Homo sapiens: one gene and its partner. The protein of the gene in region 1 purifies or fractionates together with the protein of each later gene. This does not show direct contact. Each region holds a gene or a part of one and is shown in the gene's direction. Other genes may lie near its edges. The genes, in order: ADAP2 and KCTD10.

Region 1 (7,306 bases):
TCACCATGTTGGCCATGCTGGTATTGAACTCCTAACCTCAGGTGATCTGCCCGCCTCGGCTTCCCAAAGTGCTGGGATTACAGGTGTGAACCACTGTGCCCAGCCAATTATTTAATTTTCAAAGGAATTGTGTTCTATGCCCTGAAGATCTTGAGTGGGGACCTTGAGGCTGTTACTGGGAATGTGGTTGAGGGCTTTCTTCCAGCCCTGCTGCAGCTTGGCTTGGCTGGACAAACACAGTGACCTGAGAACAGGGCTAGATGTTTCTTCTTGGTGGGACCCTGGGAGCTTTATTTACAAAGGACATTCTGTCCCACAGCCCAAATTGCTCCCTCACTCCAGCATCTGCTGTATTGACTGAGCCCTTTAGAGAGGCTGCTTTGACCCATCCTGTCCCTCAAACTCTGGGTCACAGTGCTCAGTGTCCACCTTGGTCATGACAGCCTTTGGCATGGTCCTCTTCACTTAGAAGTAGCTTCTGGGTCCTGAGCACAGAAGCTGAGCTCAATTTTCATAATGTCCAGTATCCAGGAGTGGGCTACAGAGTTTTGTTTTATTTTTGAGACAGAGTCTTGCTTTGTTGCCCAGGCTGGAGGGCAGTGGCGTGATTGTGGCTCACTGCAACCGCTGCCTGCTGGACCCAAGCGATCGTTCCACCTCAGCCTACTGAGTAGCTGGGACTACAGGCATGTGCCACCATAGCCAGCTAATTTTGGTAATTTTTGTAGAGACAGGGTTTCACCGTGTTGCCCAGACCGGGGCTACAGTTTCTGTTTAGGTTGATGCAAAAGTTTTGGAAATAAATAGTGGAGGAAATATAGGGTACAGACTTTCAATTATAAGAAGAATTCTGGGGATCTAAGGTGCAGTATGGATGGGGATGGATGTGTTCATTAATGCGATTGTGGGAATCATTACACAATGTGCACATATGTCAAATCATGTACACATTGAATATATACAATCTTTCTTTGTCAATTAAATATTTGTTAAAATAGTGGGGATAATTGCACAACATTGTGAATATAATTGAATGCAATCGATGACATAGTATTGTACACTTAGAAATGATTAAGATGGGTGGGGCATGGTGGCTCATGCCTGTAATCACAAAGCTTTGGGAGACTGAGGCTGGAGGATTGTTTGAAGCCAGAAGTTGGAGTCCAGCTTGGGCAACAAAGCAAGCCTCTGTCTCTGTGAAAATAGAAAAATAAAAAAATTAGCCAGGTTTGGTAGTACGTTCCCATAGTCCCAGCTACTCAGGAGGCTGAAGCAGGAGGATCACTTGAGCCCAGGCATTCAAGGCTGCAGTGAGCTCTGATTGTACCACTGCACTCAAGCCTGAGTGACAAAGTGACCCCCTTGTCTCTAAAGAAAAAAATGGTTAAAATGGCAAATTTTGTGTTTAGATTTTATCACAATTTTTTAATTTATATATATTTTTCTTTTTTTTTTTTTTTTTTGTTTTTTTTTTGGAGCAACCTTATTAACCGAACCACAATTTAAGTAAAAAAAGAAAAAAAAAAGTCCAGAATGCACTAAAGGGAGGTTTCATGAAATCACCTGGGACTGACTGAGCCACAGTAGGAGATCTGGATTTAGGCCCTGTTCCGCTTCTTATTTGGCTCCATGACCTTGGGTAACTTAAATCCTCTGAGGCTCAGCTTTCTCTTCTGTAAAGTGGCCTGATGTGATGCTGCCCTCTGAGGGTGTCATGAAGCTAAAATATGATCAAATGTGTGACGCTCTTGTAAAAAAAACACTCAGTAATTGTTCATTAGCATTGTCCTACAACCACCACCACCAAAAAAAAAAAAAAAAAAAAAAAAAGAAAGAAACAAAGAAAAGAAAAAAGAAGGGAAAAGAAAAGAAAGCATTATAAACAAAATACCAGAGTACATTGTTTTGCTCTGAGGATGCCTGAAATGCCACATTAAGGCTGTTTGATGGGAACCTCCAGAAATAAGGAAGGGAAGAGGGGAAACTAAAGGAATCTCTCAATCTCTGGCTCCTCACTATGAATGAGATACTGTATGTTCTCTTGGATTGGCTATTTTTTTTCTTTTTCTTTTTCTTTTTTTTTTTAATTTTTTTTTTTTTTTTTTGAGACAGAGTCTCACTCTGTCGCCCAGGCTGGAGTGCAGTGGTGCGATCTCGGCTTACTGCAAACTCCGCCTCCTGGGTTCATGCCATTCTCCTGCCTCAGCCTCCCAAGTAACTGGGACTACAGGCGCCCACCACCACACCCAGCCATTTTTTTGTATTTTTAGTAGAGACGGGGTTTCACCGTGTTATCCAGGATGGTCTCGATCTCCTGACCTCGTGATCCGCCCCCCTCGGCCTCCCAAAGTGCTGGGATTACAGGCGTGAGCCACTGCGCCCGGCTTTTTTTAAAGTTTCTGAGATTCAACCAGAGCCTACTTAGAACTGGGTTGGCTTTTGTGGGACCTACAGGGAGGTGGCAGTGAGACCTAAGGTGTCAGAGAAGCAAAGGAGCACAGACTGGTGAAGGCTCGGGTGCCGAGGAAGCACCCCCAGCATCACAATTTTGTCCCAGTGTTGGGCAGAGGAGAAATGTCCTTAGCTTGTCTCCTCTTCTCCCTCTCTCCCTCTTTCCTTTGCCTTCATACCTTAAGTTGACTTTCCCATCTTTCTCCTGGGAGATTTATTTCTGTCCCTTTTTTCATCTAAAGCAACGGAAATGAATCATCTTTCAGCCGGTTTAATAAACAGCCCCATGCCCCCTGACCCCAGCTGACTCTCTCACTGGTTCCTCTGTGGCTGCTCCTGGGCTAGGCCTCACCCCCTCACAGGCAAGACCCCCTCATGGCTGGCTATTCTTGGTAATACTCTCCACCCTCCCTTCCTGCTCAGTCCTGGCAGCTTGACCTCCTCCACCCCAGGGATGACGGGAATCACACACAGCATTCCAAGCGACAATTCCACAAGCTGACCATAGGGGCAGGGGAAGCAAGGAGGCCACCATGTTTGGAGGGTTTCTTTGTGCCATTTCAATGACCCTATTAGTGGATCTTACGCTCTCCATTTAACAGTTGAGGGTTTGGAGGCTCAGAGAAGTGAAGGAACTTGCCCAGAGACAAACAGTTGGGAAATGTGGAAATGAAGGAGTCAACATTTAAAGCCTGAATTTCTGGATTCCTGAATTCATTCCATTACACCATATTGCTGTGCGTGTGTGTGCACGTGTGTGCTTGCGCCCGCATGTATGTTGAATGGGAGTGTGGGCAGGTCAGCTAGAACATCAGCTGCAATTCACCAGGATGGAAACCTGATTTTATCCTGAAGGTTAACACCTGTCTATCATATGCATATGGCTTAATGCATCTGTGTGCATTAAGGTATTAACCTACATAGAAGATGGCAAGTATGTACAGTATATATTTCACCAGGAGGCCCATGAGTCATTGCAGATGATGTCAAGGAGTAACGAAGATGATGTCAAGCAGTAACAAAGATGGGAGAGAGGGAAAGAGGAAATGAAATGCCCACATTTAAGACCACCTATACCCTGCCTTCACCTCGCGGTGATGGAACTTCACAGGTTAAAGTGCCTGGCTGTGTCCACCTTGGTGAAACCACACTTTTCTGGTGAACAAAATCATGCAACTATTAGTTGGACTTCTAAAAATGTGCAGGTATCATTTATAGGAGCAATATGGAATACAGACATAAAACTGCTGACGTCAAACTCCCTGGTGTGGACATGTGTATGTGTCTGCGGTCAGAGAGTGGAATTAACACAAGTATATAAATAACCGTGATGCAAGGTAGATAGAAAGTGCTCAGGTCCAAAACAAATAGACAGATACTACAAGAGTATTCTTGGAGACCCAGAGGCTGGAAAGATTACTCCAGGCAGGGTATCACAGAGGGCTTCCTGAGGAGGTGGCATTTGCATATAAATACGTCTCCAAATAGATGTAAGATCTTACATTAACAGAACGCTTTAACAGAAGTTAGATTCTGGTTAATTTTCCAAGAAGCGCTGAGATGCAGACATATGCCCTTGTTCCTCTTTCATAGACGCGGAAACTGAGACCCACAGAGGTTGAATAGGTTGTCCACAGTCTCGTAGCTACCAAGTGACAGGCCACGATTTGATCTCAGGCCAGTGTGTTAAACTCCAATTTGCGTGCTCCTGTCCCTCCCCGCGCGTCGGCGGAGCTCGGGGCCGGACTGGACCTGCCGAGGGAGGGGCGGACAGTCCTGACGGTGCGGGGCGGGGCTGGCGGCTGCCCAGGCCTGGCTGAGGCGCCGCGGCCGGGTCCCTCTCCACCTGCCGGGCGGAGCGCACGGGCCATGGGCTGAGCCCCGCTGAGCCCGCCGGGCCGGCCATGGGCGATCGCGAGCGCAACAAGAAGCGGCTGCTGGAGCTGCTGCGGGCGCCGGACACAGGCAACGCGCACTGCGCCGACTGCGGGGCGGCAGGTAAGGGCGCGGCGGCGCGGGCAGCGCGAGACCCCCGGCCGGACCCCAGGCCCACCCGACTCCTCCCCTCGGCCCCACCGGGTCCCGCCCTCGGCCCCCTGGACCCAGACGTGGCACCTGCGGGCCCCGACCCCTCCCACCCACACCGTGAACCTCTCACCCGAGCCCCGAGGGCCGTCTCCACCACACCCTGCCCCGGCCCCTACGAGCCCAGGCTCTGCTCCCCTCGCGGGACCAGATGCGCATCTTCCCACGTGCTTGGACCCGGACACGAGAGCCGGCAGCCTAGAGCCCTTCCAGTCCCGCTCTCTTCCCTGGCCAGGCACCCGACCGCCCGAGTCCGGGCTCTCGATGTCTGCGCACCCAGGCGCGCCCCACGCCCTCGGACTCAGACATCCCAGCCAGGGCTAAACGTCGGGCCCAGGCCGCCGACAGTCCTGTGCCCCCTGCCCGCTCCCAGACGCCCCCCGAAGGCCTCCCCAGCGCCCCACCTCGGGGACGCCGAGGGCCCCCTAACTCAGCCTCCCCACCTGCAGCTCCGCGCCGAGCCCCGCGGTGCGCCCCCCGCGCCCTCCTCTCGGTTCCTTCTGAGTCCCTTCACTTCCACGTCGCGCAGCCTCAGACTCTCTCCCCGGGCCCTGAACTGCCTCCAGGATCTTCACCCCGGTCGCCGCGCAGCGGCCGGTGGGCTAACCAGAAGGTGCCAGGCTGGCCGCTTAGTTCGCCTTAGGTGGGAGAAGGGGCGCCCCACCTGCCCCAGTGCCCCGAGCCCAGCCCTGGTTTCTTCACCGCGCTTTCCGCTCAGCTCCTCTCCTGCCTCATCCCCTGCAGATCCCGACTGGGCCTCTTACAAGCTGGGGATCTTCATCTGTCTCAACTGCTGCGGCGTCCACCGTAACTTCCCTGACATCAGCAGAGTTAAATCTGTGCGACTTGACTTCTGGGACGACAGTATTGTGGAGGTAGAAAGGCATGCCCGTGGAGAGCCATGGAACTGCGGGACTGGAGTAGAGGCAGCGGGCAGGGGGCTCCCATTCTACAGAGGGGGAAACTGAGAACCAGAGAGGGGCAAGTCTAGCTAGAGGAAACACAGCTTATAAGATGGCAGCTTAGACAGAGGCCGAGAGTTCAAATTCTGGCTCTATCATTTGCTTACTTTTTTTTTTTTTTTTTTGAGACGGAGTCTCGCTGTGTTGTCCAGGCTGGAGTGCAGTGGAGCAATCTTGGCTCACTGCAACCGCTGCCTCCCGGGTTCAAGTAATTCTCCTGCCTCAGCTTCTCAAGCAGCTGGGATTACAGGCGCCTGCCACCACACCCGGCTAATTTTTTTGTACTTAGTAGAGACGGGGTTTCACCATGTTGGTCACGCTGGTCTCGAACTCCTGACCTCAGGCGATCCACCACCTCAGCCTCCCAAAGTGCTGGGATTACAGGCCTGAACCATCCTGAACCGCTCCTGGCCATCATTTGCTTACCTATAAGCTGGGAGGCCCTGAGCTAGGTACTTTGACCTAGCTGTGGACCCTCAGTTTCCACATCTGTATTCAAGGGATACCACCACCATTTCTCTTTTTTTCTTTCTTCCTTTTTTTTTTTTTTTTTTTTTTTTGAGACGGAGTTTCACTCTTGTCGCCCAGGCTGGAGTGCAACGGCCAATCTCGGCTCACTGCAACCTCTGCCTCTTGGGTTCAAGCAATTCTCCTGCCTCAGCCTCCTGAGTAGCTGGGATTACAGGCACCCACCACCATGCCCCGCTAATTTTTGTATTAATTTTTAGCAGAGACGGGGTTTTGCCATGTTGGTCAGTCTGGTCTCGAACTCCTGACCTTGGGTAATCCACCCTCCTCGGCCTCCCAAAGTGCTGGGATTACAGGCGTGGGCCACTGTGCCTGGCCACTACCACCAATGTCACAGCACTGTTGTGAAGATGATTGTAGGCTCAGTCCAGACACAAAGAAAGCTGTCAGTTAACAGTTGCTGTTGTACGGGTGTGGTGGCTCACACCTATAATCCCAGCACTTTGGGGGGCTGAGGCTGGTGGATTGCTTGAGCCCAGAAGTTCAAGAGCAGCCTGGGCAACATGGTGAAACCCCGTCTTTACAAAAAATACAAAAATTAGCTGGGTGTGATGGCATGCGCCTGTCGTCCCAGATACTTCGGGGGCTGGGGTGGGAAGATCACCTGAGCCTGTGAGAGTGTGGCTGCAATGAGCTGAGATCGCACCACTGCACTCCAGCCAGGGTGAGAGTGAGACCCTACCTCAAAAAAAAAAAAAAAGTTGCTGTTATCATTAGTGAAGTCTTGGACTGGGGGAAGGGAAATAACCTGATTTGTGGTCTAAAGTCCTCCTTTCCCCCTAGGCAGAAAGAGGACCACTTTGCTCTCCTGCCCTCTGGGGGTGGAGGATACCCTCAGCCTGCATGGTAATTCCATTTTGGTCAGAAAACCTCCAGAGAGCAGGCAGTTCTGCACTGTGCGGGTTGGCTGAGGGTTTCCAGGACTATTGGGGAAGCAGGCTGACATTTACTGAATGCCTACTCTGTGCCAGGTACTGTGCTAGACAGCACCGGACTGGAGGCTTTAGTGTGACCTTACTAAGTGCTGGGTCTTGGGAGAGAACAATGAACAAGATAAGGTCCCTGGCCATACAGAGCTTACATTCTAGTGTGGGAGAAAGGCTGGAAACCAGTAAACCAGCACATAAACCTGAAGGATTTTATTTGCACCTTATAACTCCCATGTTATATTTTCTTTTTTGTTTTTTTTGTTTTTTTTTTTTTTGAGACGGAGTTTCACTCTTGTTGCCCAGGCTGGAGTGCAATGATGCGATCTTGGCTCACTGCAACCTCTGCCTCTG
Region 2 (5,282 bases), on another chromosome or scaffold:
GCTGGGCATGGTGGTGTGTGCCTGTAGTCTAAACTACTTGGGAGGCTGAGGTGGGAGAATCATTTAAGCCCAGTAGTTCAAGACCAGCCTGGGCAACATAGCAACACACTCATCTCTACAAAAAGTTAGTTGGGCATGGTGATGCATGCCTATAGTCTCAACTACTTGGGGAGGCTGAGGTGGGAGAATCATTTGAGCCTAGGCGTTCAAGGCTGCAGTGAGCTATGATTGTGCCACTGCACTCCAGCCTGGGTGACAGAGCAACACTCCCTCTCAAAACAAAAAAGAGAAAAGAAAGAGGCCCTTGGACTCCCGTCCTGGCTCTGCCCCTAACCAGCTTCACAAACACAAGAACACGCCACTCCTGAACCTGGTCTGTGAATCAAGAAACAGTTGGGATCAGACCATGTGGTCTCTAAATCCCCTTGCTCCTTATTAAGCTCTAAAAATGAGAAGTCTTAAAATTTTAAAGCTTAATTAGCCAGATCCCATATCTTTTAAAAAAAAAGGAAAGAAAACCAGGATTTCCTCCCAGCCTCTCTGCCTGTTAGACTCTGTTGGCCTCCCTGGCCACTAGAGACCTTCTGGAGGTCTTCTGTCCTGGTGCCATTTCAGGGTTTCAGGCTGCATCAGTGCTGGCAGCAGCAAACAGTAAACTCACTGTTGGGCATTACTCCAAATTCTGTTGTTTCCCCCATCTGCCTGCCATGATTTACTTCTGAGTCCACAGTTAGCTGCTGTGTGCATCCCATTCTGGCTTTGTAGTGTCAGTGAGGAAGACGGGGTAGAGTGTGCCTGCTCCATTTTTCCCAGAACCTCCGAATTCCACCCTGAAAGTGGAGTCTAGTCTGATCAAATGTGTGGGACCTGCTTATGTGGCCCTCTTCCTGTTCATCACACCTTAACCCTGAAGGGCAATGAGCAAACACAATGATTTGCCAAACAGCAGAAGGGCTCATGCCCATTTCGTGGGAGTCCCCAGCTGGACCCTGTACAAAAAACTGCTTTAGAGACTGCTTTAAGGTGTGGAAGGACTTCTGTGCAAGGTTGCAGCTCTGTTAGGAGAAGCATATTAGCACTGACCTAAATGGCCATCCAAGTATGGTTAATTGCATTGTCGTATTTATAATTCCTTGATACAGAATGATCTCTAGGTTAAGTTAGGCACAAGAGGAAGACATGTACAACTCTGTGTGGTGGGCCACCTTGTGTGTTTTTTGAAGTGTGTGAATAAATATGTGTATTACACATATTTACATGCACAGAATCTTTGAGAGGGTAAAATGATGAGAAACTGTACCTTTAAGAAGGGAAACTAGGGGCAGGGAGACCTGTTTCTCTGCATCCCCTTGATTTTCTGTGCATTTAGCACCACATGTAAGTGTTGCCATTGAAAATATCAGTTTATTTAAAAATAATACTGGTGGCCTTCAGCAGAATCCCAGGGGCCTGATTTAGCCTGGCGGCCCTGCTTAAAGTCCAGGTGTTGGCAGAGGGGGTGGGCCATAACTTACCTGCCCTGTATACTGTGGGAACACAGGTGGAGTTTCCCGAAGCCCGGATTTATGAGGAGACCCTGAACATTTTGCTGTATGAGGCCCAGGATGGCCGGGGACCTGACAATGCGCTCCTGGAGGCCACAGGCGGGGCGGCGGGGCGCTCCCACCACCTGGACGAGGACGAGGAGCGGGAGCGGATCGAGCGCGTGCGGAGGATCCACATCAAGCGCCCTGATGACCGGGCCCACCTCCACCAGTGAGCAGGCAAGAGACCGAGCCGCCCTCCTCTCACCGCCCCCACTCCCTGCCGTGCTACACCCAGATCCTGTGCAGGCTGCCGGGCCCCTTCTGCTTCCCTTGGAGCCTGGAGATACTTTTGTAACAAGCCAGATGATTATTTTGGTATTGCTTGACAAGGCAAATTGATTGTCTTGACCCAGGCGTATGACCCCTGTCGTTGAACAAGCTGTGTCTAAGATCTCTACTTTTCATGAGAATCTGAGACTCTTTGGAGCCAGGCTTTCTCGGTTCTCAGAGGAAAAGTATGAATGAGTGTGAAGTGTATGTGAGAACTTTTGTTTGCAATATTTATTTTTGTGGGTGTCGACTTCCTATGTGGGCTTTTTGGGTGACACTCCCTTAAGGGTTCAGTTTGACAATTCTGAGAGTTGTCCTGCAGTTGGAGGCCACCAGAGGTATCTGAGCTCCCTGCTTCCTATTTCATAATCCTCCAGCCCCAGCAGGTCCACTCCTGGTTCCTGTGTGTTTGGCCCGGGCACAATCCCCACTGCTTTGCTAGACGTGCTTTCTGCCATGTGGCTTTGGGCCTAGAGCTTGTTGATAATTGCAGCTTGTGGCAGTGGAAATATGGCTGAATGAGCGTCTAAATCGTTGAGACCAGTGCAACTTTGGGTGCAAGGCTTTGTTTAGGGATCAAGCCTTTTGCCACCTTGGGCTGGTCTTTGGCCTGGTGCTCACTGGGACCCCATATGTCTGCGTAGGAGCAGAACTTTCCATGGCAGTAAGTGTCCAGCTCTGTTTCTGGTTCTTTCCCCAACTCCAGCCCCGTCCAGTTGTTCTCCTGATTGACCCGACTCCACTCCAGGAAGGCCATCTGACCCTGTGACAGGCATAGCTCATAAACTACCCCTCCCTGGGATCCCGCTCCTCTTCAGCCTCCTTCCCCATGAAGCTGGGCTAACTTTCTAAGTCATTTTGCTTAGAAATTCAGTGTGGCCCATACCCTTTGTCCTCCCAGCCTGGCATCCAGGCAGGGACACCCTCACACCACCAGCCCCAGGGAGCTTCCCTGCTATAAACACAGACCCCCTTGTCTTTGCCTCTGATTTTTACACAGTGTAGAGTGGCCAGCAGTGAACAGGTTGAGGATGTGCGGGTAGATAGATAACTTTGGGTCTGGTTTGTGTCTGTGTTCATGTTTGTTTAAGGGATATGTGTGACTGTGGGTGGGGACGTGTGCTTGTGGGGCACAGGTGGCGGCCCCTGCTGGAGCCCGGCTGGGCGCAGCGCCTATGTAGGACGGGTGTTCTCAGTGACCTACCTCCCAGGCTCCTCTGCACCTGCAAAGGAACAGGAGTGAGTCGTGACTGACAGGGGTGGTTGAGACTAGACTAGGTAGAGTAGTTACCAGGAGATGTGAATGTGCGTCAGGTGATGGATGGGTTTGTCAAGGGAATCGTTACCGTTTTATACCAAAGGTATTAACATGGGCAGCCTTTGACACATGTATTCCAAAAACGAGTTTATATTTTCAAACGGTTTTTACAGCTTAGACTTTGTACTTACTGCCCTGCCTGTGACAGTTGTATGCCTTCATTTTGTATCCAACAGCAAAGTCTACAATAAAACTTTAAAACAATCATGACTGAATGTCAAAATCGTGTATTGGGCAGATGCTTTTTAAACTGTCGTGTGAGAAACTTTTATATTAGGCCATTTGGATTTTATTAAGTGCTAAGGAAAGAGGGCTTACAAAATGTTTCGTAAATATTTTATACTGTTTAAGTGTTAAACACCAACCCTGTCTTTCTTTTGGGTTGAGCTTTTTTAGAAAGTCGAAGTGAATGTTGGCCAGGAAAATGGAAAAGCCATTGTATAAATTTTTTTTTGAGGCGGAGTCTTGCTCTATTGGCCAGGCTGGAGTGTAGTGGCACCATCTCCACTTACCACAACTTGTGCCTCCTGGGTTCAAGCGATTCTGCTGCCTCAGCCTCCCGAGTAGCTGGGATTGCAGGTACCCATCAGCCCATGCCCAGCTAATTTTGTATTTTTAGTAGAGATGGGGTTTCACCATGTTGGCCAGGCTGGTCTTGAACTCCTGACCCTGTGATCCGACCACCTTGGCCTCCCAAAGTGCTGGGATTACAGGTGTGAGTCACCACACCTGGCTGCATAGTGTTTTAAATGTTTGTGTGAAGAATGAGTTTGTGGAACAATTTGATTTGCTGTGGCCTCTATGCCTAATGAGCTAGTGTTTCTGGCAGCTCTCTCTACCCAACTTTGCACTTGTAGTTTTGAGTCTTTGTCTCTCTGGAATATGAACAGGTTTATAAAACATTCCATGGTGAACAATTCTGTCGGCTGCATTATAGCCATGAGTGAATAGACAGCATTGGCTGGTCCAAGCTCTGTTATTGAGTATACAAGGAACTGATTTTTCTTATGTTAGCACTAAGGGCAAAAACCAATATTTATAATGTAAGCACTATCCAGGTAAAACACTGGCCCAAGATTTGGTAAAGAGATTTCATTGCAATGTAATAACTACAGTTTTTTACAAATTGGAACAGCTTTGGTGTGTCGTAATCAAGGGTTTTTTTTGTTTGTTTGTTTCAAATAAGCCATCTGATTGTGGTGACTGGGGCCCATGTCCAAGACAATTCCTGGCATATTCTGTCACCCTCCCGTGGGGCGATCACTGTGTGGGGACCCCATTCCCCAGTTAAAGTGTGTCTCTGTACCTTACAACAGCGATTCAGGACCCAAGTGTGAACAACACTCAGCCCGCCCTCTGGAGCGTGTGCTGTCTTTAGGGCCCTACCCAAAGTCACTGTAACAGTTAAGTGTGTCATTAACCTTTCTGTCTCTTTGCGCCATAAAAAAATGCTCAAAGTTTTAGATGTAGCCACTGTATGTTGTACAAACGTTGGCGACATGTAAAATAAAAGTCATAAAATGCTTCTGTTTTCTGGCTCTTTTCAGGCATGCCCGGCATAACCAGGCCCCTAAAATCGGTTTACAACAAAGGCAGGGCCCCCACGTTCTGCCTCAGCCCCTTAAAGTCGCTCCAGGTGGAAGGGAAAAGACAGTCATGTTTCTGTAGTGTTTGTTTGAATTCAAACACCAAAAGGAAGTCTTGGGGTCAAAGGCTGCCTGGCTCATGAAAAAGTGAATCAGCTGGTGTTACCACTGATTTGCTATTATGGGGCAGAGGGCTTCAGTTCACCAAACCCAATCCCTTGACACATGTGAGTTCCATTTATTTAAAGCAAAATTCAAATTTCACAGCTTTAGGAAATTTCCTTTACTTAGTCTCAGACCATGCACAGTAAGTCATCGATAGGTTCTTGGAAGCTGAGACTTGAAGCAAAACCATGAGGCTAATGGATGTAAACAAGAGTTAAATTCCTACAGCATGTTGCTGGGCACAAAAACATCACCCAATTTCTAAATAAAGACCAAAGCACTTCTCATATTAAACTGTGAAATACATGAGCTACACGTATATTTAATTAAATCAAAAATAAGACCATATTACCTAAG

Evidence for each region.
Region 2: the proteins of ADAP2 (region 1) and KCTD10 purify together in Homo sapiens (affinity purification with mass spectrometry; 3 studies listed by BioGRID and IntAct, with this or other methods). This does not show direct contact.

Annotation. Positions count from the first base shown.
Region 1 is NC_000017.11:30,917,660-30,924,965, forward strand, and holds the start of ADAP2 (arf-GAP with dual PH domain-containing protein 2), read left to right. Parts: upstream 1-4,285; 5' UTR 4,286-4,355; coding exon 4,356-4,449; intron 4,450-5,280; coding exon 5,281-5,411; intron 5,412-7,306. UniProt on the Homo sapiens protein: GTPase-activating protein for the ADP ribosylation factor family. Binds phosphatidylinositol 3,4,5-trisphosphate (PtdInsP3) and inositol 1,3,4,5-tetrakisphosphate (InsP4). Possesses a stoichiometry of two binding sites for InsP4 with identical affinity.
Region 2 is NC_000012.12:109,448,072-109,453,353, reverse strand, and holds the end of KCTD10 (BTB/POZ domain-containing adapter for CUL3-mediated RhoA degradation protein 3), read left to right. Parts: exon of another isoform or gene 1-1,540; coding exon 1,541-1,759; 3' UTR 1,760-4,699; downstream 4,700-5,282. UniProt on the Homo sapiens protein: Substrate-specific adapter of a BCR (BTB-CUL3-RBX1) E3 ubiquitin-protein ligase complex. The BCR(BACURD3) E3 ubiquitin ligase complex mediates the ubiquitination of target proteins, leading to their degradation by the proteasome.